Linked DNA regions of Homo sapiens. The protein of the gene in region 1 purifies or fractionates together with the protein of each later gene. This does not show direct contact. Each region holds a gene or a part of one and is shown in the gene's direction. Other genes may lie near its edges. The genes, in order: IRF2, IRF2BPL and CTSS.

Evidence for each region.
Region 2: the proteins of IRF2 (region 1) and IRF2BPL purify together in Homo sapiens (affinity purification with mass spectrometry; 4 studies listed by BioGRID and IntAct, with this or other methods). This does not show direct contact.
Region 3: the proteins of IRF2 (region 1) and CTSS purify together in Homo sapiens (affinity purification with mass spectrometry; 2 studies listed by BioGRID and IntAct, with this or other methods). This does not show direct contact.

The regions. Positions count from the first base shown.
Region 1 is NC_000004.12:184,394,489-184,401,594, reverse strand, and holds part of IRF2 (interferon regulatory factor 2), read left to right. Parts: intron 1-2,515; coding exon 2,516-2,680; intron 2,681-7,106. UniProt on the Homo sapiens protein: Specifically binds to the upstream regulatory region of type I IFN and IFN-inducible MHC class I genes (the interferon consensus sequence (ICS)) and represses those genes. Also acts as an activator for several genes including H4 and IL7.
Region 2 is NC_000014.9:77,025,635-77,033,193, reverse strand, and holds the start of IRF2BPL (probable E3 ubiquitin-protein ligase IRF2BPL), read left to right. Parts: upstream 1-4,485; 5' UTR 4,486-5,401; coding exon 5,402-7,559. UniProt on the Homo sapiens protein: Probable E3 ubiquitin protein ligase involved in the proteasome-mediated ubiquitin-dependent degradation of target proteins. Through the degradation of CTNNB1, functions downstream of FOXF2 to negatively regulate the Wnt signaling pathway.
Region 3 is NC_000001.11:150,748,763-150,755,868, reverse strand, and holds part of CTSS (cathepsin S isoform 1 preproprotein), read left to right. Parts: intron 1-718; coding exon 719-868; intron 869-3,860; coding exon 3,861-4,088; intron 4,089-5,697; coding exon 5,698-5,863; intron 5,864-7,106. UniProt on the Homo sapiens protein: Thiol protease. Key protease responsible for the removal of the invariant chain from MHC class II molecules and MHC class II antigen presentation. The bond-specificity of this proteinase is in part similar to the specificities of cathepsin L.

The DNA.
Region 1 (7,106 bases):
AGTCTGTGTCTAGTGACCTGCATAATTGATGTCCTCACCCTCACGTAGGATAATCCAAAGGATGAAATAAATGGGCTTGGGAGTCTGCCTGCCATATATAGCCTGCCTGCCTTTTCTTTAATTTTATCCCCACCAGGAAAACCTAAACAGGATCCGGTTTCCCTTCCATTCTGTATGCTGTGGCTTTTGGACTCTTGTATCACAGCCCCAAATCCCCTTTCTGAGCCTCTTTTGTGCCTTTCCTTTCTTTATTAAAGAACCTATGAATTGCCACTGCCCTCTAAAACCTTCCCTGCGTAGAAATCAGATAATGTGCTTGTCACTCCACAGACAGCAATTAAAACAGGAACCTGTTTATAAACAAAAATACTTCAGAAAATAAAATACTTGGAGTGATTAAAACGAGCCTCTCCATGACGCCTGGCGTCTCAAGGAGACTGGAATGCGTTCTAACCTGAATACTTTGCCGATTGGTGAGAAAATGACTGCAACATAGAGCACCACATATACTCCAAGCTGTGCGAGTCTGGACAAGTCACTCTCCCTCTCTGTGCCTGAGTTTCTTCATCTATAACAGGATAACGATGCTTTCTCTGTCATCCTTATGGGTTAAAATGTTAAAATAACAGATACAGGTATGAGTAAAACGTTGATGATGGTGGCAAAGTGCTTTGAGGACCTTGGGAATTATTTCTTCACCTTTATTTATTGAAGCTAATTTTCAGGGACATTTCATCCAACTAACAGTGGTATGAGGTCAGTTTCATTCAAAATGAGGGCAGGACCTTAGGGACCTTCAAATTAAAATGGCCATGAAACATCATGACTTACCTATGAGAATGGCCAAAATAAATAAACAGTGATGACACGAAATGCTGCCGAGGCTGTGGAGAAATTTGATCACTCAGACACTGCTGGTGGGAATGTAAAATGGCACGGTCACTCCGGGAAGCAGTTTGGCAATTTTCTTGTAAAATTAAACATGAAATTACCATATGACTCAGCAATTGCATTCTTGGGCATTTATCCCAGAGAAATGGAAACTTATATTCATACAAAACCTGAACACAAACATCCATAGCAGCATTATTTGTAATAGTCAAAGGCTTGTAGCAACTCAGACATCCTTCAGAGGGGAGAATAAACACACTGGTACACCTATACCGTGGAATACTACTCGGCAATTGAAAAGGAACCGATGACTGATACACACAACAACTTGGGTGACTCTGCGGTGAATTATGCTGAGTAAAAAAAAAGCCAGCCCCAAAAGTCTACTGTATGAGTCCATTAATATAACATCCTTGAAATGAACAAATTAATGAAATGGGGAACAGATTAATAGTTGCCCAGGGGTCATGGACAAAGAGATGGATGGGGAGGTACTGAAGGAAGGTGGCTATGGTTACAAAGAGTAACGTGAGAGAGATTGGTCGTGATGGAACTGTTTGGTGTTTTGACAGTGGTGGTAGGTACATGAACCTTTATGTGTGATAAAATTGCACTTAGTCCTGGTGCAGGTACACACTCACACAAAAGAGTGCAAGTAAAACTGAGGAAATCGGAACAAGATGGGTGGATTGTTATTTATGTCAATACTCTGGTTGCGATATTGTATTCTAGCTTTGTAGCCTATAACCATTGGAAGAAGTTGAGTAAAAGGCACACAGGATCTCTCTGTATTATTTCTTACAACTGTATGTGAGTTTACAATGATCTCAAAATAAACAATATAAGAAAAATATTTGAGGCAGTTTTCAGAGCCAGGGTGGTCAGAATCCATCTTATCAGTGTTCCGGGGAGCTGATGCTACTAATGTTTGCCAGAATTGGAGATCTGACTCTATTCCATTGTGCTGATATTTCAGCCAGTTGGACATGTTGCCTGTAGAGCAGGAAGAGAGCTGGGAGCGTAAGCAGAGCGCCACCCAGCTAGATGGGGACCTTGGGCATTTATCCCAGAGAAATGGAAACTTATGTTCATACAAAACCTGAACACAAACATTCACACAGCTAGATGTGACACAATTGGGTAGATTTTCATGGCCCTTCCTCTTTAGTAAGGTTTGATAATGTCTCCCTGGATTGTAGAACCCAGAAAATAAGCACAGCGCCTTCTTTTGGAGCAAGAGCAGGGAGCAGAAATCGGTCAGGTTCAAAGTACTGTCATGTCTGGCCCTGGGGCTGGGGCTGGATGCCGCCTCTGGTCCTGTGGCCTCGGCTGTGACGGGGTTGACTGTGGAATTCTGCTGAGCTGGAAAGGACATGGCCACCGTGCGTGCCATTGGCAGGCATGCTGGAGATAGACCTGGGGAGCCAAGTGCTGGCCGGCTGCTCCCTGGGAGACATCACACCAGAGCTACAGAGCTCAGGCGTGTTCTTCAGCCCCATGGCAGGGGACAGATGGTGATGGGAGCCTGGCGACCTGGCTCTTTTGGGGAAGACTCTTTCTTGAGAAAGTGTGCTAGAATTGTGAGGTCAGCAGACTTTGCATGATGGCTGTCTTTTCTTTGAAGTTGTAGGACAGTCCCATCTGGACAGCAACATTGAGAATCAAGAGATTGTCACCAATCCGCCAGACATTTGCCAAGTTGTAGAGGTGACCACTGAGAGCGACGAGCAGCCGGTCAGCATGAGCGAGCTCTACCCTCTGCAGATCTCCCCCGTGTCTTCCTATGCAGGTAAGCGTCAGCGGGAGGCTCCGGGAGGCGTGGGAACCGGCCGCGCAGTCCTTTGGTCTAGGGTCACCCATCTCACCACCCCACGGAGCATCCCTCCTCTGTCCTAGGAGTTATTCTCCCTGGAGTTTTTCATACTTTAATTATCTTGATCAACATCTTCTTGGACACTTTTGTTCTCAGGTAGAGGACAGGATCACAGCATTTCTTTACTCAGTTGGCCATGACATTTTTTATTTATTTATTTATTTTTTTTTTTTTTGAGACAGAGTCTCGCTCTGTCTCCCAGGCTGGAGTGCAGTGGGATGATCTCGGCTCACTGTAACCTCCGCCTCCCAGGTTCAAGAGATTCTTCTGCCTCAGCCTCCTGAGTAGCTGGGATTACAGGCGCACACCACCATGCCAGCTAATTTTTGTATTTTTAGTAGAGACGGGGATTCACCATGTTGGCCAGGCTGGTCTCGAGCTCCTGACGTCAGGTGATCCGCCCACCTTGGCCTCCCAAAGTGCTGGAATTACAGGTGTGACCCACAGTGCCTGGCCTCCCATAACATTTTTATATATGGTTACAGATAAGATTTCTTTAGGGCAGTAGTTCATCAGAGTCTAATTTATTAGCCCAAGTTATTAGAAATTTGGCAGAGTGTTTTAATGGATTCTCAGTTTGAGCAGGCTGGATAGGACCTTAGAGATGATCTCTTCCTGTTCCTTCATTTCTGAAAGGGAAGGGGCTTGCGCAGGGTCGTACAGTCAGCAAGTGTTTGGGCCAGGACTTGACCTCAGCCTTCAGACCCCAAGCTCATTGCTAGATCCATTCCATCCACCAAGCGTACTTGTCCTTTCCACATATTTTCTCTTTCTTTTTATATCTAGTACAGGTTCTAATTAGGCCAGATGACTGAGCCATTTCCAATTCTCCAGGGACTTGGCTACATAATGACAGGAGTTGGCCCAGGCAGAGTCACAGGGGGAGGAACAGATCCAGTTGGTTCTTCCATTCTTCCAGAGTAAAAGGATGGCTCCTCTCGTTCGCCAACATTACTTCATCTTCTCCTCTCTTCCTGATGATCTCCATTGAATTTTGTGGAAATCAATTGTAATTAGGAAATATAAATTCTGAGTCAGTGTTACTGCTTGCAGATATTAAAAATAAAAAGCAGAGTCCCCATCCTGGGAAACTGCAGTTCAGCTCTAGCAAATAGTTCAGGGATTCTTCCCTGTGCTCTTTACACGCTGCCAAATGGGATGTCCTCCAGTAGGTGCCACCCCCAACACTGGCTCCGACCAGCGTTGGAATTAGAGTTGACTCAAAGGACTGTTGTTTGTGAATTATCAGCCACTAAGTCTAATCTCATTTTCCCTGAATGCCAACTTTCTTTTTTTTTTCACTTTTAAAAATTGTGGTAAAATACATTAACATAAAATTTACCATTTTAGCCATTTTTAGGTACACAGTTTAGTAGCATTCAGTGCATTAATGTTGTCGCAGCCATCACCAGCATCCACCTCCAGAACGTTTTTCATCTTGCGAAACTGAAACTCTGTCTGCATTAAACACTAAGTCCTCTTTTCCCTCCTCCACCCCAGCCCCTGGCAACCTCCTGCCTATTTTCTATCTCAGTGAATTTGGCTATTCTAGGTACCTCCTATGAGTGGAATCATAGTGCTTGTTGTTTTGTGACTGGCTTATTTCACTTAGCATAGGTCCTAGTGTGCATTTATGCTAGGAGCGTAAGTGGAATGTGAGAATAGACCTTGGCCACAGGAAGATTATAATCTGTCAAACAGGATAAGCTTGTCTTCGGTGCTTTATTCAGCAAATGCGTTTTGGACTCTTACACGTGCCAGTCCCTGTTTGGTCCTTGCCAGAGTGCAGTCACAAGAACTACTATGTTTTGCAAATTTATTGTGCCCTGGGAACCATGCTCAGTGCTTGGGTACAGTTGACTGTTGTTGTTGTTGTTTGTTGTTGTTGTTAATAGAAATAGGGTTCTGCCTTGCTGCCCAGGTTGGTCTAGAACTCCTGGGCTCAAGTGATCTGCTCGCCTCAGCCTCCCAAAGTGCTGGGATTACGGGCATGAGCTGCCATGCCTGGTATGATACAGTTGACTTGTTTAATTATAATTAGAGTAACCCTGTCAGCCTGGGTATCGTCATCATCCCGTTTTTAAAAGTGAGGAATCTGGCTGGGTGTGGTGGCTCACGTCTGTAATCCCTGCACTGGAAGGCTGAAGTGGGAGGATCACTTGAGCCCGGAAATTGGAGACCAGCCTGGGCAACATAGTGAGACCACACTTCTACAAAAAATAAAAAAAGTTAACCGGGTGTGGTGGCATGTGCCCGTAGTCCCAGCCACTTGGAAGGCTGAGGCAGGAGCATCCCCTTGAGCCCAGGAGTTCAAGGCTTCATTGAGCCCTGGTTGCACCATTGCACTCCAGCCTGGGTGACAGAGCGAGATCCTGTCTTAAAAAAAAAAAAAAAGAAAAAAAAATATATATATATGGATCTGCGGCTGGCGTGGGTAGAGCAGCGTGTCTGAGGGAGGAACGATTGGGAGCACAGCTAGAACCCATGAGCCGTTGATGCCAAAGGCCGGTCCTTAACGCCCGCCCTGTGTCGCTGCCCTGGACAGCGCACGGGCTCTGCCGTTCAGAACACAGCCACATCCCGTGATCTCATTTGATTTTCACAAGGACCCACCAAAGGAGGCAGAGCAGAATGTTTATGCCTAAATTTTACAGTAGAGCTAACCGAAGCGTGAAACACTCAGCCACTTTGCTTATATTTACATAGTTATGGCTAAAAACCCATGACTTTCTTCTATAGCCTGCTGCTGCAGGCATCGTTACACTCCATGTGGTTTTCTTTCTCTCTTCTTTTTTTAGGGGGTTGGAGCTTTAGAATAGACTTCTATGTTTATCTGTTGAGTAAGACTTTTCTGAGGTCTTCTTGGGGATTCTGGAAAGACCTCTTCTTGCTGTTCTGCCAGCAGTGGCATTTGCTCAAGCAAAAGATTCCGGAGAACAGCAGATCCATGCAGAGAGAAATGAACATTTCATTACTCTCTTCAGGACATTTGCATAGGTTTGAAAGGAAGGATTTCAGTGCCAGGATGGCAGTCAACAGGAGGTTTTGCTGGAGCCTGGCTTTTCAGCCTGGCCTTTGGTTCTTTCCGTTGTTTTCATTGTCTGGATTCTCCAGAACCTCGTGGAGGGAGGCTTACTGGTTGGAGGCAAAATGTTCCATCGCTGCTGATGTTCTAGAGCTCACAGTGGTGTAAAACATTTCCCTGCTACTGACTGTAGCTAATTTTAGTTCCTCCGTCAGAAATTGTATAACATGCTGTCAGGAAAGGCAGCTTTCTGCGTGTATTCACCTTTCTTGCTTTATGTTCTCCAGTAGAGTCGGCCATTTGCCTGTTTTTCATGATGGAGTTCCTTTGTTTGGGCTGTTCATCTGAATTTCAATCTCCTCTGACCACCTTTTTTTTTTTTTTTTTTTTTTTGAGACGGAGTCTCGCTCTGTCGCCCAGGCTGGAGTGCAGTGGTGCGATCTCGGCTCACTGCAAGCTCCACCTCCCGGGTTCACGCCATTCTCCTGCCTCAGCCTCCCGAGTAGCTGGGACTACAGGCACCCACAACCAAGCCCGGCTAATTTTTTTTGTATTTTTAGTAGAGACGGGGTTTCACCGTGTTAGCCAGGATGGTCTCGATCTCCTGACCTCGTGATCCACCCGCTTCGGCCTCCCAAAGTGCTGGGATTCCAGGCGTGAGCCACCGCGCCCGGCATGCTCTGACCACCTTTATTCATCTGTTTGGGAAACTGGTATTTGGAGGCTGCTGTTTGCTAGTTTTTCCCCCTACTGATCGTTGAATCATAATCCCAGTAGTATATTACAAAACCACATTCAGTTTTGCAAGTCTGTCTTCTCCTCTGTGGTCTAAATATTATGATGAGAAAGAGAAGAGATAGTACTTGCGTTGGATGTTTTAAGACAACATAAAATTCTAGTGTGATTTGTGAAACTTTCATACTAGGGAGGGACATTTCAAAGTGCCACTTTGGGAAGCTCTGGCGGAGAGACATGTCATGTTTAAAGGTGCATTACAAAGTGACCCCTTGCCTGATCTGTGGCATCAGAATTTTATTAGGTGGTTGATGGTTTAGTAGAAGAAAACCACAGTAGAATAATGGGGTGGGGGAGGATGGGTAAGAGGGGCTGGAGAGTAGACTCGAGAAGAAAACATCATCTGAAGGACTCACTGGCTATAATGAGAGAGTGGAGATCGCCTGCTGACCAGCAGCCATCAGTAAAGGCTTTGAATCCTTCGGGAAACCACACCAGGCTTGCATTTTGTTGGGCAGAGCAAAGACACAATCGCTTTGAGATTAAGAGGATTCCGATTTGAAAATAATTTACTCCTGGTGA
Region 2 (7,559 bases), on another chromosome or scaffold:
CCCAGGGCTCAAACTGCGCCTCTGGGGTTCCTGGCGCGCGGCGATCAGGGGCCATCGAAAGGCCAGAGGAGGGCCCAACGCAGACGTTTGTTTTCATCTTCTCCAAGGCGGATCTCGCAGGCCAGAGAAGTGGGTCCCGCTTACCGCGGGGCTGTTACCAAAAAAGGCCTTTCTCTCGCTGGAGCGCTTGGCGGCGCGCGTTGCAGCAGGGTGACGCGAGGTTCAGCCCGGGCCTCCTTGAAGGTTGAGCCAGCTGACTGCAGGGCTGCCAGGCCAAGAGCCCCCCCTCCGCAACACACACACACACCCGCGCCCCGTCTCTGCCACAAAACGGCGGGGGCAGGAGAGAGAGTGCAGGGAGCTTCGAAGTGCGCGCCTGGCGACCTTCTCACCACTAGTAACCTTGGGCTATGGTGCTCCGGCAAGGCCAGGTGGAAAGCTGACCTTTTGCTCCAGTTTAGAGCAGGGTTCTCTGAGGATGCCAGCCCAGATGGCAAGCTGGGTGGGGAAAGCGACAGTAGGAAGGAACTTTGGGAAGATGATGCCGCCGTTTGGCGCCCGGCTCTGCTAGTCTCTGCTTGTCTCCCAGACCCCATGGACAGAGTTCTTTGAGTCTCTACACCTGGCAGTTTACGTTGAGGCTCCTCCACCTCCACCACCCCCCTCCCAAATCCTTTCCAGTTCCTTTCCACCGTTGTCATAGTTTTGTTCCACGGGACTCTTCTTCAGGGAGAAAACCCACCTCCAGAACACTGGAGTTCTAGCCTCTCACCGTCTCTCACACATCCCCAAACGGCCATCTCAGGCAACAAGAGATACCACAAATGATGTTGATTCTTTTTTTTGGTTGGGGGGGGGGGGGCGGTTTGGAGACAGCTGTGTTTTATAAATGAAAGGATTATGAGTCTGTAATGGAAGTCTGTTTAAATACACGTTGATTTCTAACTCAGTGTGTCTGAAGGCACCCCAGCATGTATGTGTGTATATATATCTCCTTTAGTAACAGTGAAGACAGAGACAGACAGGGAGATGGAGACATATGTGTGTGCATACCAAACATAACACCATGACATAGAATCCAACTTGCTTTCTCTAGCAGCCTGGCTGGAGGGTTGTGGCTAAGTTGCTATTTCCCTAATATTTTTGGTTTAATAAAGGGAAGGGCTGAATAAATATTAATGTAAAGAAATGGGTCACCCAACCGAGCCAAAGCTAAGGAGCCCCAGGCTGGCGGGGATGTCAAACCATTTCCCACCCCTATGTTTTGACTCACTCCAGGGTAGCGGTAGTGTGGGGAGGGCTGAAGTCTGGGAGAGTGAGGCAATGCTCCCCAAGCAACTCTTTGCAGAGGAATCACTGCAAAGTGCCAGCAGGCCAGAGAAAGTTTATTATTGCTCTAGAGTGCACAGTGAGCTCACTGTTTTGCAAAAACAGAAATCTGGCTGCTTTGAGATGAAAGAGGGGCTCCCTAGGGCTCCTCCTCCTCTTCTGTCCTTAAAAACTCGCCTTTCCTTTGCACTCAGGGGCCCCAGAATGAGTGGGAGATTGGGGCTCTGGGGAGGGTTGGATAGGGGAACAGGCTCTGGAAGTCAAGTGTCAAAATAAAAGTAAGTATCTCTTGTTGCTTCCACTGAACTTTATTGCAATTACTAGTAATAAGAGTGATAATAGTGATCCTCACAATTTATGCAGTTTACTAAGTACTGTCACATGTCAACCAGCAATAGTACCAACACTAGTATCAATACTAATAATAACTAACACTAACTGTGAGTCCAACACTGCTCTCCATTCTGTATGGTGTATTTAAGTTACAGTCTGGTAGTGACAGATCTACAACTTCTGTATATAGAACTCAGTGGTACAAATGCGCTTGGAAGGGGAGGCTGGGGGTTGGTTATGAAGGTGTATTGGCATAGTACTTACGTAAGATTGTATGTAACACCAAATCAACTGGGGCTGATGGGAATTTTGAGCACCCCAAACCACCTCTGCAAGCCTGAGCTTGTCAAAGACACCTCAAATCAGATTTACTGGATTCAAATCCCAGCCCCATCACTAATGGCTGTAGGCAAGTTATATAGCCTCTTTACTTTCCTGGTTTGTAAAATGGAGGTAAAAGAATCTACCCTGTAGATAATATTAAGGGTTTAATACTGTAATAGGCCGGTCACGGTGGGTCATGCCTGTAATCCCAGCACTTTGGGAGGCTGAGGCGGGAGGATCACCTGAGGTCAGGAGTTCGAGACCAGCCTGGCCAACATGGTGAAAGTCCGTCTCTACTAAAAATACAAAAATGAGCTGGGTGTGGTGGCGGGCGCCTGTATCCCCAGGTACTTGGGAGACTGAGGCAGGAGAATTGCTTGAACCTGGGAGGTGGAGGTTGCAGTGAGCTGAGATTGCGTCACTGTACTCCAGCCTGGGTGACAGAGTGGACTCTGTCTCAAAACAACAACAAAATACTATAGATAATATCCCCTTAATAATGTAGATAATATTAAGGGTGATGCAAGTAAAGCCACCTAGTTTACTAAGGTCCCACGGCAAGTCTAAGTAAGCGTTATCTCTTCTTATGACAAGAAACAAATTGAGGCCGGGTGAGGTGGCTCATGCCTGTAATCCCAACACTTTGGGAGGCCAAGGTGGGTGCATCACTTGGGCCCAGGAGTTTGAGACCAGCCTGGGCAACACGGCAAAACCCCATCCCTTTCCAAAAATACAAAAAAATTGGCCAGGTGTAATGGCACATGCCTGTAGTCCCAGCTACTAGGGAGGCTGAGGTGGGAGGATTACTTGAGCCTGGGAGGTCAGGCTGCTGCCAGCCGCGAGTGTGCCACTGCACTCCAGCCTGGGCAACAGAACAAGATCCTATCTCAAAAAAACAAAAAACCGAAGTTGAAATCTCAAACAACCCTAACAACCTGGGAGCTATCATTCCATTCTCTTTTCCATGGAAAAGAGAGATTTTGTGGGTAACTAGCTTAAGGGTGGAGAGCCAGTTAGTGATGGAGAGGAAATTTCAATCTGGTGGGCCACACTTCAGAATCCGAAATCCCATTATATTGCTTTCCCTTCTCCAGCCTTCCCTGGGATTATCTCAGTTTTCATGAAATAAAAAAAAAAAAAAAAGCAAACCCAATAATTAGAATAATCAATAGAAATGCCCCAACTAGAGCTATGACCAACATATCCATCGTGCCATAAGCAATACTGATGAGCAGTGATCTTGTAAGGCAGAAGAAATCACGGCCTTGGCCGGGCGTGGTGGTTCATGCTTGTAATCCCAGCACTTTGGAAGGCCGAGGCGGGAGGATCACCTGAGGTCAGGAGTTCAAGACCAGCTGGCTAACATGGTGAAACCATGTCTCTACAAAAATACAAAAAATTAGCTGGGCCTGATGGCGGGTGCCGGTAATCACAGCTACTTGGGAGGCTGAGGCGGAAGAATCGCTTGAACCTGCGAGGCAGAGGTTGCAGTGAGCCGAGATCGCGCCATTTTGCACTCCAGCCTGGGCGACAGAGCAAGACTCCGTCTTAAAAAAAAAAAAAAAAAAAAATCACGGCCTTGTTCCGCCTTCTGGGGCAACATGGAGTGAGATCACAGCGCCTGAGAAAGAACTTTGAAAACTGCGGCTGTGCTTTACAAAAATGTATCAGTATTATTAAATGCTGCCTCCACCTTTTAAAAATCAAACTCTAGAAAAAACACTCACCTGTTTGGCCTCTCCGGCCCCTCCCCCTCCCTGCCCTGAACTGCAGCTGTGCGCAGCCAGTTGCCTGTTTTCCTTAAAGGCCTCGGGGTGCTCGTATCTTCTTCAGACGTTCAGCCAAAATTTTTAAAGTGCGGCTGGGGGGAAGGGTAGCGCACTCTGAATTCATTTAGCTCTATCGTTGAAGCCCGGGTTCCTAGATCAGGGCACAAAAACAAATAGAAAAGACAATTTCTGGAAGATTGGAAAACAGCTAATTTTGCAGGTGCTTCGGCATCAGTGGTGGCGATGAATTTAACATCCATGCCGGGGGGGATAAGGTTCAACCGCAGATGAAATGGTTAATACCTTATACGAAATTCACGGCGAAAAATCCTGAAACAGGACATTTAAATTCACTGCCGAGGCTTGGGGGTGGGGTGGGGAGCAGGGATCGGAAACGACGCTAGTGGTTCTTAAATGCGTTTTTACTTGGGAATGCCCGGCAGGGAAAGGAAAGGTCATCGTCTGTTTAATTTCCACCCCCAGCTCTGGACTTCCAGCATTAGCTCGCCGGGCCTCAGCTGTTGTACACACACGGCGAGGGGGGAGGGGAGGGCGGAGGCGCGGAGGAGGGGCCGGCTGGGAGGAATCTGGGCGTCCTGCCGCGCATGCGCCTTGCCTGAGCAACAAGTGGGCTCCACAGAGGAAGTGTAAAGGGGAGGGGGAAGAACTGGTGCAGAGCATGGCGGTGACGTCAGCGCTCCGCCCGGGCGGCATCCCGCGCGGCCAAGCCGGGGACAGCGCGAGCCGCAGCCGGAGCAGGAGCGCCGAGACGCGCCTCCGGAACGTAGAGTAACAATCACAACCCCACATTCCGGGCGAGCGTGAGCACGAGCGGGAAGGGATGCGACCCGGGCCGAGGCGCCGCGCGAGCGCCCTGCAGCCAACGTGAGCGCCGCCAGCCGCGGCGGCCCGGGCGCCGGCCAGGCCTGGGGGCGGCGGGAGCCTGCGTGCGTGCACTCCTCTCCTCTGCTCTCGTGCGTCCTGGAAGCAGTGGCCGCGGCGGCTCCCTCCGGGGTGCAAACCCAGTCGCCGCCAGCAGAACGGCCGACGCTGCGGAGGGGAGAAGGTCCTTTCTCGGCTGCCACCCCCTCCCCCGGTCCTCCGGGGAAGCAGCGGCTTCAGCAAGATTGGACCCGGGCACCGGGTGGCACTGAACCCTCTGGCCCTCGCCCCAGGGGGCCCGTCGGGGAGAGGACGCAGCTCGTAGGGGGGTCCCCGGGGAGAGGAAGAGACAGCCCCTTTCGAGCTTCCACGCACCAGCCACTCCGGGGAGGGGGCCAAGAGGCAACGGCGGCCACCACCGGGCACCCTCGCCCCCTCCCCTCGGGCCGGGAGCTTCCAGCCCAAGTCTGCAGCACCAGGAAGAAGGCGCCTGAGCTCCCCTCGCGACGAGTCAACCGCAGTAGGAGGTGGGGGCGAAGAGAGGGCTGAACCCGTCCGCTGCCCGGGCGGTGGAGCCCCCACGGCGAGGCGCTGCGCCGGCGGTGGAGACTCGCGTTCCCTCCAGCCCCTGGGGCAGAACTTTCTCGCCCCCCCTCCTCCCTCCCCCGCAGTCGGACTCCCTCCCCAGCCGGCCAGTCCTCCCGGAGGAGAAGGCGCCGCGGAGACAGCCCGGGCGGGGGCCTACCTTCCCCAGGGCAGGCATCATGTCGGCGGCGCAGGTGTCCTCGTCCCGGAGACAATCTTGCTACCTGTGCGACCTGCCCCGCATGCCCTGGGCCATGATCTGGGACTTCTCGGAACCCGTATGCCGCGGTTGCGTCAACTACGAGGGCGCTGATCGCATCGAATTCGTGATCGAGACAGCGCGCCAGCTGAAGCGGGCGCACGGCTGCTTCCAGGACGGCCGCTCCCCCGGGCCGCCGCCGCCCGTCGGGGTCAAGACAGTGGCCCTGTCGGCTAAGGAAGCGGCGGCGGCGGCGGCAGCAGCGGCGGCCGCCGCCGCCGCCGCGCAACAGCAACAGCAACAGCAGCAGCAGCAGCAGCAACAGCAGCAGCAGCAGCAGCAGCAGCAGCAGCAACAACAGCTCAACCACGTTGATGGTTCCAGCAAGCCTGCGGTGCTGGCGGCCCCGTCTGGCCTGGAGCGCTACGGCCTAAGCGCTGCCGCCGCCGCCGCCGCCGCCGCCGCCGCTGCGGTGGAACAGCGCAGCCGCTTCGAGTACCCGCCACCGCCGGTGAGCCTGGGAAGCAGCAGCCACACCGCGCGACTGCCCAACGGCCTGGGGGGCCCAAACGGCTTCCCCAAACCAACACCAGAGGAGGGACCCCCAGAGCTGAACCGTCAGAGCCCCAATTCTTCTTCAGCGGCGGCGTCGGTGGCGTCTCGGCGTGGAACGCACGGTGGGCTGGTTACGGGGCTGCCCAACCCGGGGGGTGGCGGAGGCCCCCAGCTCACCGTGCCCCCCAACCTGCTACCGCAGACGCTGCTTAACGGCCCGGCCAGCGCTGCGGTACTCCCCCCACCCCCTCCCCACGCCCTGGGCAGCCGTGGGCCCCCGACGCCTGCTCCCCCAGGGGCTCCTGGGGGCCCCGCTTGTCTCGGGGGTACCCCGGGTGTATCGGCCACGTCGTCCTCCGCGTCGTCTTCGACCTCTTCGTCGGTGGCAGAGGTGGGCGTGGGTGCTGGTGGTAAGAGGCCCGGCTCGGTGTCGAGCACAGACCAGGAGCGCGAGTTGAAGGAGAAGCAGCGCAACGCCGAGGCCCTGGCCGAGCTGAGCGAGAGCCTGCGCAACCGCGCCGAGGAGTGGGCCAGCAAGCCCAAGATGGTCCGCGACACGCTGCTCACGCTGGCAGGCTGCACGCCCTACGAGGTTCGCTTCAAGAAGGACCACTCGCTGCTGGGCCGCGTTTTCGCCTTCGACGCCGTCTCCAAGCCCGGCATGGACTACGAATTGAAGCTGTTCATTGAGTACCCCACGGGCTCGGGCAACGTGTACTCCAGTGCATCTGGTGTGGCCAAGCAGATGTATCAGGACTGCATGAAGGACTTCGGCCGGGGCCTATCCTCGGGTTTCAAGTACCTGGAGTACGAAAAGAAGCACGGCTCCGGGGACTGGCGCCTGCTTGGAGACCTGCTCCCCGAAGCCGTGCGCTTCTTCAAGGAGGGCGTGCCCGGCGCCGACATGCTGCCCCAGCCCTACCTGGACGCCAGCTGTCCCATGCTGCCCACTGCTCTGGTGAGTCTGAGCCGCGCCCCCAGCGCACCCCCGGGGACCGGGGCCTTGCCGCCCGCCGCGCCGTCGGGCCGGGGCGCAGCCGCCAGCCTGCGCAAGAGAAAGGCCTCTCCGGAGCCCCCGGACTCAGCCGAGGGCGCGCTGAAGCTGGGCGAGGAACAGCAGAGGCAGCAGTGGATGGCGAACCAGAGCGAGGCGCTGAAGCTCACCATGTCCGCCGGGGGCTTCGCGGCGCCGGGGCACGCGGCGGGGGGTCCGCCTCCGCCGCCCCCACCTCTGGGACCCCATTCCAACCGGACCACCCCACCTGAGTCAGCCCCCCAGAACGGTCCGTCCCCTATGGCCGCTCTCATGTCGGTGGCAGATACTCTGGGCACAGCGCACTCGCCCAAGGATGGCAGTTCCGTGCACTCTACCACTGCGTCGGCGCGGCGAAACAGCAGCAGCCCAGTCTCGCCGGCCTCCGTGCCGGGGCAGCGCCGCTTGGCATCACGTAACGGGGACCTGAATTTACAGGTGGCGCCCCCGCCGCCTAGCGCCCACCCGGGCATGGACCAAGTGCACCCCCAAAACATTCCGGATTCCCCCATGGCCAACAGCGGACCCCTCTGCTGCACCATTTGCCACG
Region 3 (7,106 bases), on another chromosome or scaffold:
TCTACAGTAATGTCCTGGGCCTTCACATTCACTCTCCACTCACTCACTGACTCACCCAGAGCAACTCCAGGCCTTTCATAGTAAATGACCTATATAGAAGTACCATTTTTACTTTTTTTTTTTTTCTTTGAGATGGAGTCTCACTCTGTCGCCCAGGCTGGAGTGCACTGGCGCGATCTCAGCTCACTGCAACCTCCGCCTCCCAGGCTCAAGTGATTCTCCTGCCTCAGCCTCCCAAATAGCTGGGATTACAGGCATGCACCACCATGCCCAGCTAATTTTTGTATTTTTAGTAGAGATGGGGTTTCACCATGTTGGCCAGGCTGGTCTTGAACTCCTGACCTCAGGTGATTTGCCCGGCTCGGCCTCCCAAAGTGCTGGGATTGCAGGCGTGAGCCACCATGCCCAGCTCCCATTTTTACTTTTTATACTGTATTTTCACTCTACCTTTTCTATGTTTAGATATATTTAGATACACAAGTACTTCATATTGTTCTACAATTGCCTACAACCTTCAGTACAGTACCATGCCGTGCAGGTTTGTAGTTTAGGAGCAATGGGCCCTACCATACAGCCTAGGTATGTAGGAGCCAATACGCTCTAGGTTTGTGTAAGTACACACTATGGTGTTTTCACAATGACAAAATCACCTAACGATGCATTTCTCAGAACATATTCCAGTCATTAAACAATGCCTGACTGTATATTTGCTTTGTAGACCAGTGAAGAAGTGATGTCTTTGATGAGTTCCCTGAGAGTTCCCAGCCAGTGGCAGAGAAATATCACATATAAGTCAAACCCTAATCGGATATTGCCTGATTCTGTGGACTGGAGAGAGAAAGGGTGTGTTACTGAAGTGAAATATCAAGTGAGTATTACCATCCCAAGCCTCTGAACCCTAGGTAGAGCTCTTTAAATGCTTAGTCTAGCTACAGAATTTGACAGTGAATCTTACAGTCCCACGTGTTACTTTCTAGTTATTTTTGTTATTCTTGTCTTCCCAACTAAATTATAAGTTCCTTAAGGGCAAGGATCACATATTATATTTTATTTATACAGTTGGCCCTCCATATCCACAGCTTCCACATCTGCAGATTCCACCAACCGTGGATCAAAAATATCCAGAAAAAAATGAAAATAAAAAATAGGCCAGGCACTCACGCCTATAATACCATTACTTTGGGAGGCTGAGGCAGGCGCATCACCTGAGGCCAGGAGTTCCAGATCAGCCTGGCCAACATGATGAAACCCCGTCTCTACTAAAAATACAAAAATTAACTGGGCCTGGTGGCACATGCCTATAATCCCAGTTACTCAGGAGAGTGAGGCAGGAGAATCACTTGAACCTGGGAGGCAGAGGTTGCAGTGAGCTGAGATCACACCATGGCACTCCAGCCTGAGCTAAAGAGCGAGACTCCATCTCAAAAAAAAAAAAAAAGGTAAAGTATAAGGGAGGGCCGGGCGTAGTGGCTCATGCCTGTAATCCCAGCACTTTTCCAGGTCAAGGGAGGCAGATCACTTGAGGTCAGGAGTTCGAGACCAGCTTGGCCAACATGGTGAAGTCCCGTCTCTACTGAAAATACAAAAATTAGCCTGGCGTGGTGGTGGGCGCCTGTAATCCCAGCTACTCGGGAGGGTGAGGCAGGAGAATCACTTGAACCTGGGAGGCAGAGGTTGCAGTGAGCTGAGATCTTGCCACTGCACTCCAGCCTGGGCGATAGAGTGAGACCCTGTCTTAAAAAAAAAAAAAAAAAAAAGTGTATAGGAGGATGTGTAGGTTATATGCGAATACTCAGTAATTTATATAAGGAACTTGAAAATTCTTGACTTTGGTATGCTCAGAGGTCCTGGAACCAATCCCTTGTGGATACTGAGGGACAACTGGATTCTCCACAGTGGTTTTTGTTTTGTTTTGTTTTGTTTTGTTTGAGACAGGGTCTCCCTCTGTTGCCCAGGCTGGACTGCAGTGGTGCGATCTGGGCTCACTGCAACCTCTGCCTCTTGGGCTCAAGTGATCCTCCCATCTCAGCCTACACGGTGACTACAGGCACACACCACCACTTTTTTTTTCTTTGTATTTTTAGCAGAGATGGGTTTTGCCATGTTGCCCAAGCTGATCTCAAGCTCCTGAGCTCAAGTGATCCTCCTACCTCCACCTCCCAAAGTCCTGGGATTATAGGCATGAGCCCTCGTGTTCAGCCCCCACAGTGCTTTTCTAAGTGATCATAGAGCCACCTACTTAGACAAACACTGAACTAAGCAAATAGGTGTTTAACACAGACTTTTATTGCTCACGCTATGCATTGACTGCACTGGACTCTCCAATAAGCCAATTGCTTGAGAAGCAGTGTTGTGTGAGAGAGCCCTGGTGATCAGGAAGTTTCTCCATTTCACTTGTGAGTTTCAAAGTTGAAGGAGAAGAAAGAACTAGAGATAGAGTGTTCTATAAATTGAGCCACTCAAGTTAATTCATGGCTAGTCTTGCATCGTTAGAATATGAAATATGTGCCTTGTAAAATTATTGTTCCTATGCTGTTGTATTTTCCTTTAGTTTGCTTGTTTTAAAAAAATTGCAAAAATCCTAAATTAGTTAGAGGTAAAACACATGTATCACCATAGAGGTCAGGGTAAGTGAGAGGAATCAAAGCATTCTGAGCAGCTACCCCAGGTTGTGATCAATGAAGAAAGTAAAAATTTATTAGGAAGTAAATGGTGGCCAGGCACAGTGGCTCACATCTGTGATTCCAGCACTTTGGGAGGCAGAGGCAGAAGGATCGCTTGAGCCCAGGAGTTAGAAACCAACCTAGGCAATATAGTGAGGCCCTGACTCTACAAAAAATAAAAATAAAAATTAGCCAGGCATGGTGCGCTCCTGTAGTCCCAGCTACTTGAGGGGCTGAGATGGGAGGATCGCTTGAGCCTGGGAGGTTGAGGCTACAGTGAGCCATGATCACACCACTGCACTTCAGTCTGAGTGACAGAAGGAAACCCTGTCTCAAAACAAACAAACAAAAAGAAGTAAATGGTACTGCTAATCTCTTATTCTTTTCCACCTACATATTTTTCTTTCAATTAGTTTTGGATTTCTTACCCGAGGTTCTCTAAAATAACAGCTTTTAGAAGACCCAATAAACCACATATTTAGATGTTAACTCTGAGTAAGTTAATGAGCTCCTTTCTCTGGGTGCTTGCATTTTAATGAACAATTTTGCTTCAATCAAAAGCAATGTCAGTTTGCTTCCTTTTGGTGGAGAGCAAGGTGGGAGGAGGGAAGGAGAGAGAAAGAGAACAATTATGATGGGGCTCTGGACACTCTGCCCCTTTTAAAACTAAAGCAGCTTTGCCTTTTTTTGTTTGTTTATGCCTCCTTGTAAAATATTTTTTAATCAAAAAAATTCTGAAGATAACAAAGGTTTGAAAAATGCCAACCTAGGATTAAACTTCTTATGTTTCAGGCATCATATGACAGGAGAAAGGGTATTTTAGGTCAAGGAAATCATCCTAGCTCTCTCAAAATCTCATTACTGTAGGCAACTATCTCCCTTACTTATGGGTGAAAATAGGTGCAATTTGGTACATGCTCAGTGAGTATTGTTTCTAAGTATATTTGAATATGGCCATTATGTTCTGAGCTTGGCTGATTGCAAATCTCTATCAAGGTTGGACCTTGCCTAGATAACAATTGAGTTAAATTTAGTCTTCATTCCCATTGTTAAAGACAGAAGGAAACTGTAGTGGGGGAGCTCTTTCTGGGAACTAGGGACAGAACTGATGTAGCTGAGCGTTGTCCAGTTTGGGTTATGGAAGTCATTCCGAATGATTTTCTGTGATTTGCGTTTGTGACCTTGTATCTGTTTTAGGGTTCTTGTGGTGCTTGCTGGGCTTTCAGTGCTGTGGGGGCCCTGGAAGCACAGCTGAAGCTGAAAACAGGAAAGCTGGTGTCTCTCAGTGCCCAGAACCTGGTGGATTGCTCAACTGAAAAATATGGAAACAAAGGCTGCAATGGTGGCTTCATGACAACGGCTTTCCAGTACATCATTGATAACAAGGGCATCGACTCAGACGCTTCCTATCCCTACAAAGCCATGGTGCGTCTTAAGCAAACTTTTTGTGCTGCCCCATGATCTCATGTTATCCACTGACTGACTGTGCTGGGCTTGCCACCATGCCAATTGCTTGAGAAGCAGTATTGTGTGTGAGAGAGAACCCTGAAGAGGAATTCTTAAATTCTCAAGAGTTCTGTTTCTGATGAAGTACTCTTCTTAATATATCAGTAGTACAAATAAGGAAGTAGCATTCATGCTTAAAAACAGATTTTAATGACTGGGCGTAGTGGCTCATACCTATAATCTCAGCACTTTGGAAGGCCGAGGTGGGTGGATCACCTGAGGTCAGGAGTTTGAGACCAGCCTGGCCAACGTGGTGAAACCCTGTCTCTACCAAAAATACAAAAATTAGCCAGGCATGGTGGTGCATGCCTGTGGTCCCAGCTACTCGGGAGGCTGAAGCAGGAGAATCGCTTGAACTCAGGAGGTGGAGGTGCAGTGAGCCGAGATCACGCCACTGTACTCCAGCCTCGGCAACGGAGCAAGACTCCATCCCAAAATTAAACAGATTTTAAGCAAACTATCCTTAAAATTATTTCTCTGTATTTAAACTTTTTCTTCTGCAGCCTCCCATGCTCAACCTTATTCTCAGATCATTAACCACATCATTCTTCCACCCACTGAGAAGCTAAATAACACTCTCCTCTTCCTCAGAAATTCATTATACATTTTGATATAACGATAACCTAAGGATTGTGTCCATGTTACAGAAGATTTTAAAAATATAAAAATATCACTCAAAAACCTTCTACCTTAACCACTATTGTTTTGGTTTATTTCTTTCAAGTTATTTTCTTGTTAAGCACTTAAAAAACATAGTTGGCCAAGTGTGGTGGCTCACACCTGTAATGTCAGCACTTTGGGAGGTCGAGGTGGGAGGATTGCTTGAGCTCAAGAGTTTGAGACCAGCCTGTGCAACATAGTGAGACCTCACCTCTACTAAAAATCAAAAAAATTAGCCAGGCATGGTGGTGCACACCTGAGTAGCAGTTCCAGCTACTCAGGAAGCTGAGGTGGGAGAATCACTTGGCCCAGGAGTTGGAGGCTGCAGTGAGCCATGATTATGCTACTGCACTCCAGCCTGGACAATGGAGTGAGAGCCTATCTCAAAAAAATAAATAATATAAATAAATACAAAATAGTTGTATATACAACAAACATGAATTTGTAACTTTCCTTTTCCCACTTGAAATACTTGTGTTTCCCATATTATATGGTCTTTATATACCATCATTTTAGCTGCAGATCATCTTGCAGGCATCAAAAAGATTTTAAAGCTCTCATCTAGAGTTTATTATCTCTATGTAATATTTCCCTACAGTCCACCTGAAAGTCTGAGGGGCCATTGTCCTGGCAAGTTTTGCATGTATGAGGATGTTCACAATTTGAAAGAATAGAATAGTTCTGTATTTCCTCCATTATTGCTGAAACCCGGGACTGTTAGGATTTGGAAGATTTGCAAAGGAAGGAGCCTTAGACACATGAAAAAGTTAAAGAAAGGAAGGGAGACATTTAAAATCCAGGCTTAGGATACAGGTGATTTATACAGGAGTTGAAGTATACTTCATCATATTTATACTTCTTTTTGCAGGATCAGAAATGTCAATATGACTCAAAATATCGTGCTGCCACATGTTCAAAGTACACTGAACTTCCTTATGGCAGAGAAGATGTCCTGAAAGAAGCTGTGGCCAATAAAGGCCCAGTGTCTGTTGGTGTAGATGCGCGTCATCCTTCTTTCTTCCTCTACAGAAGTGGTAAAAAATAAAATAAACAATAATTAGAATTTAAAGAAAGAAAGAAAGGATATTGGCTGAGCACGGTGGTTCATGCCTGTAATTCTAGCTTTGGAGGCTGAGGTGGGAGGATTGCTTGAGCCTGGGAGTTTGACACCAGCCTGAGCAACATCGCGAGACCCTTATCTCTACGAAAAATAAAAATAAAAATTAGCCGGATATGGTGACACTCACTTGTAGTCTCAGCTACTTGGGAGGGTGAGGCAGGAGGACTCCTTGAACCCAGGAATTTGAGGTTACAGTGAGCTATGATCATACCACTGCACTCCAACCTGGGCAACAGAGTGAAAACCTGTCTCTAAAAAACAAGGAAGAAAGAAAGAGAAAGAAGGAAGAAAGAGGGGCAGGGCAGGGCAGGGCAGGGCAAGGTGGGGCGGGGCGGGGCGGGGCGGGGTGAGGCGGGGCGGGGTGAGGCGAGGCAATTTTAAACCTCATGAACCAACATCTGCTGGCTTCAAACTTTTCTTCTGTAGCTTCCTCGCCTCTCTCAGCCTTCTTACAATAGAAGAGAGTTAGGGTCTTGTTCTGGATTAGGTTTTGGCGTAAAGGCATGCTGGGCTGGCTTACTCTTGTATCTAGACCACTCACATTTTCTCTGTATCAGCAATAAGGCTGTTTCACTTTCTTGTCATTTGTGTGTTCAGCAGAGCAGCATTTTTAATTTCCTTCAAGCACTTTTCCTTTACATTCACAGCATGCCTGACTGTTCGGTACAAGTGGCCTAGGCTAGGTTCTGGCCTGTCTTGGCTTTCAACATGCCTTTCCCGCTAAGCTTAATCACATCTAGCTTTTGACTTAAAGTGAGAGATATGCAACTTTTCTTTTTACTTGAACACTTAGAAGCTATCATAGGGTTATCATGTGGCATAATTTCAATATCATTGTGTCTCAGGGAACAGGGAGGCCTGAGGAGAGAGATGGGGGTGTGGCCAGTCCGTGGATCAGTCAGAACACACACAACATTTGTGGGTTAAGTCTGCTATCTTATATAGGTGTGGTTTGTAGCTCACCCTCAAAATTATGAAGTAACATCAAAGATCATTGATCACAGATGACCATAACAGATATAATAATGATGAGAAAGTTTGAAATATTGTGAGAATTACCAAAATGTGGTACAAGGACACAATGTGAGCACATGCTTTTGGGAAAATGGTACCAATAGACTTGCTGAATGTAGAGTTGCCACAAACCTTCAATTTGT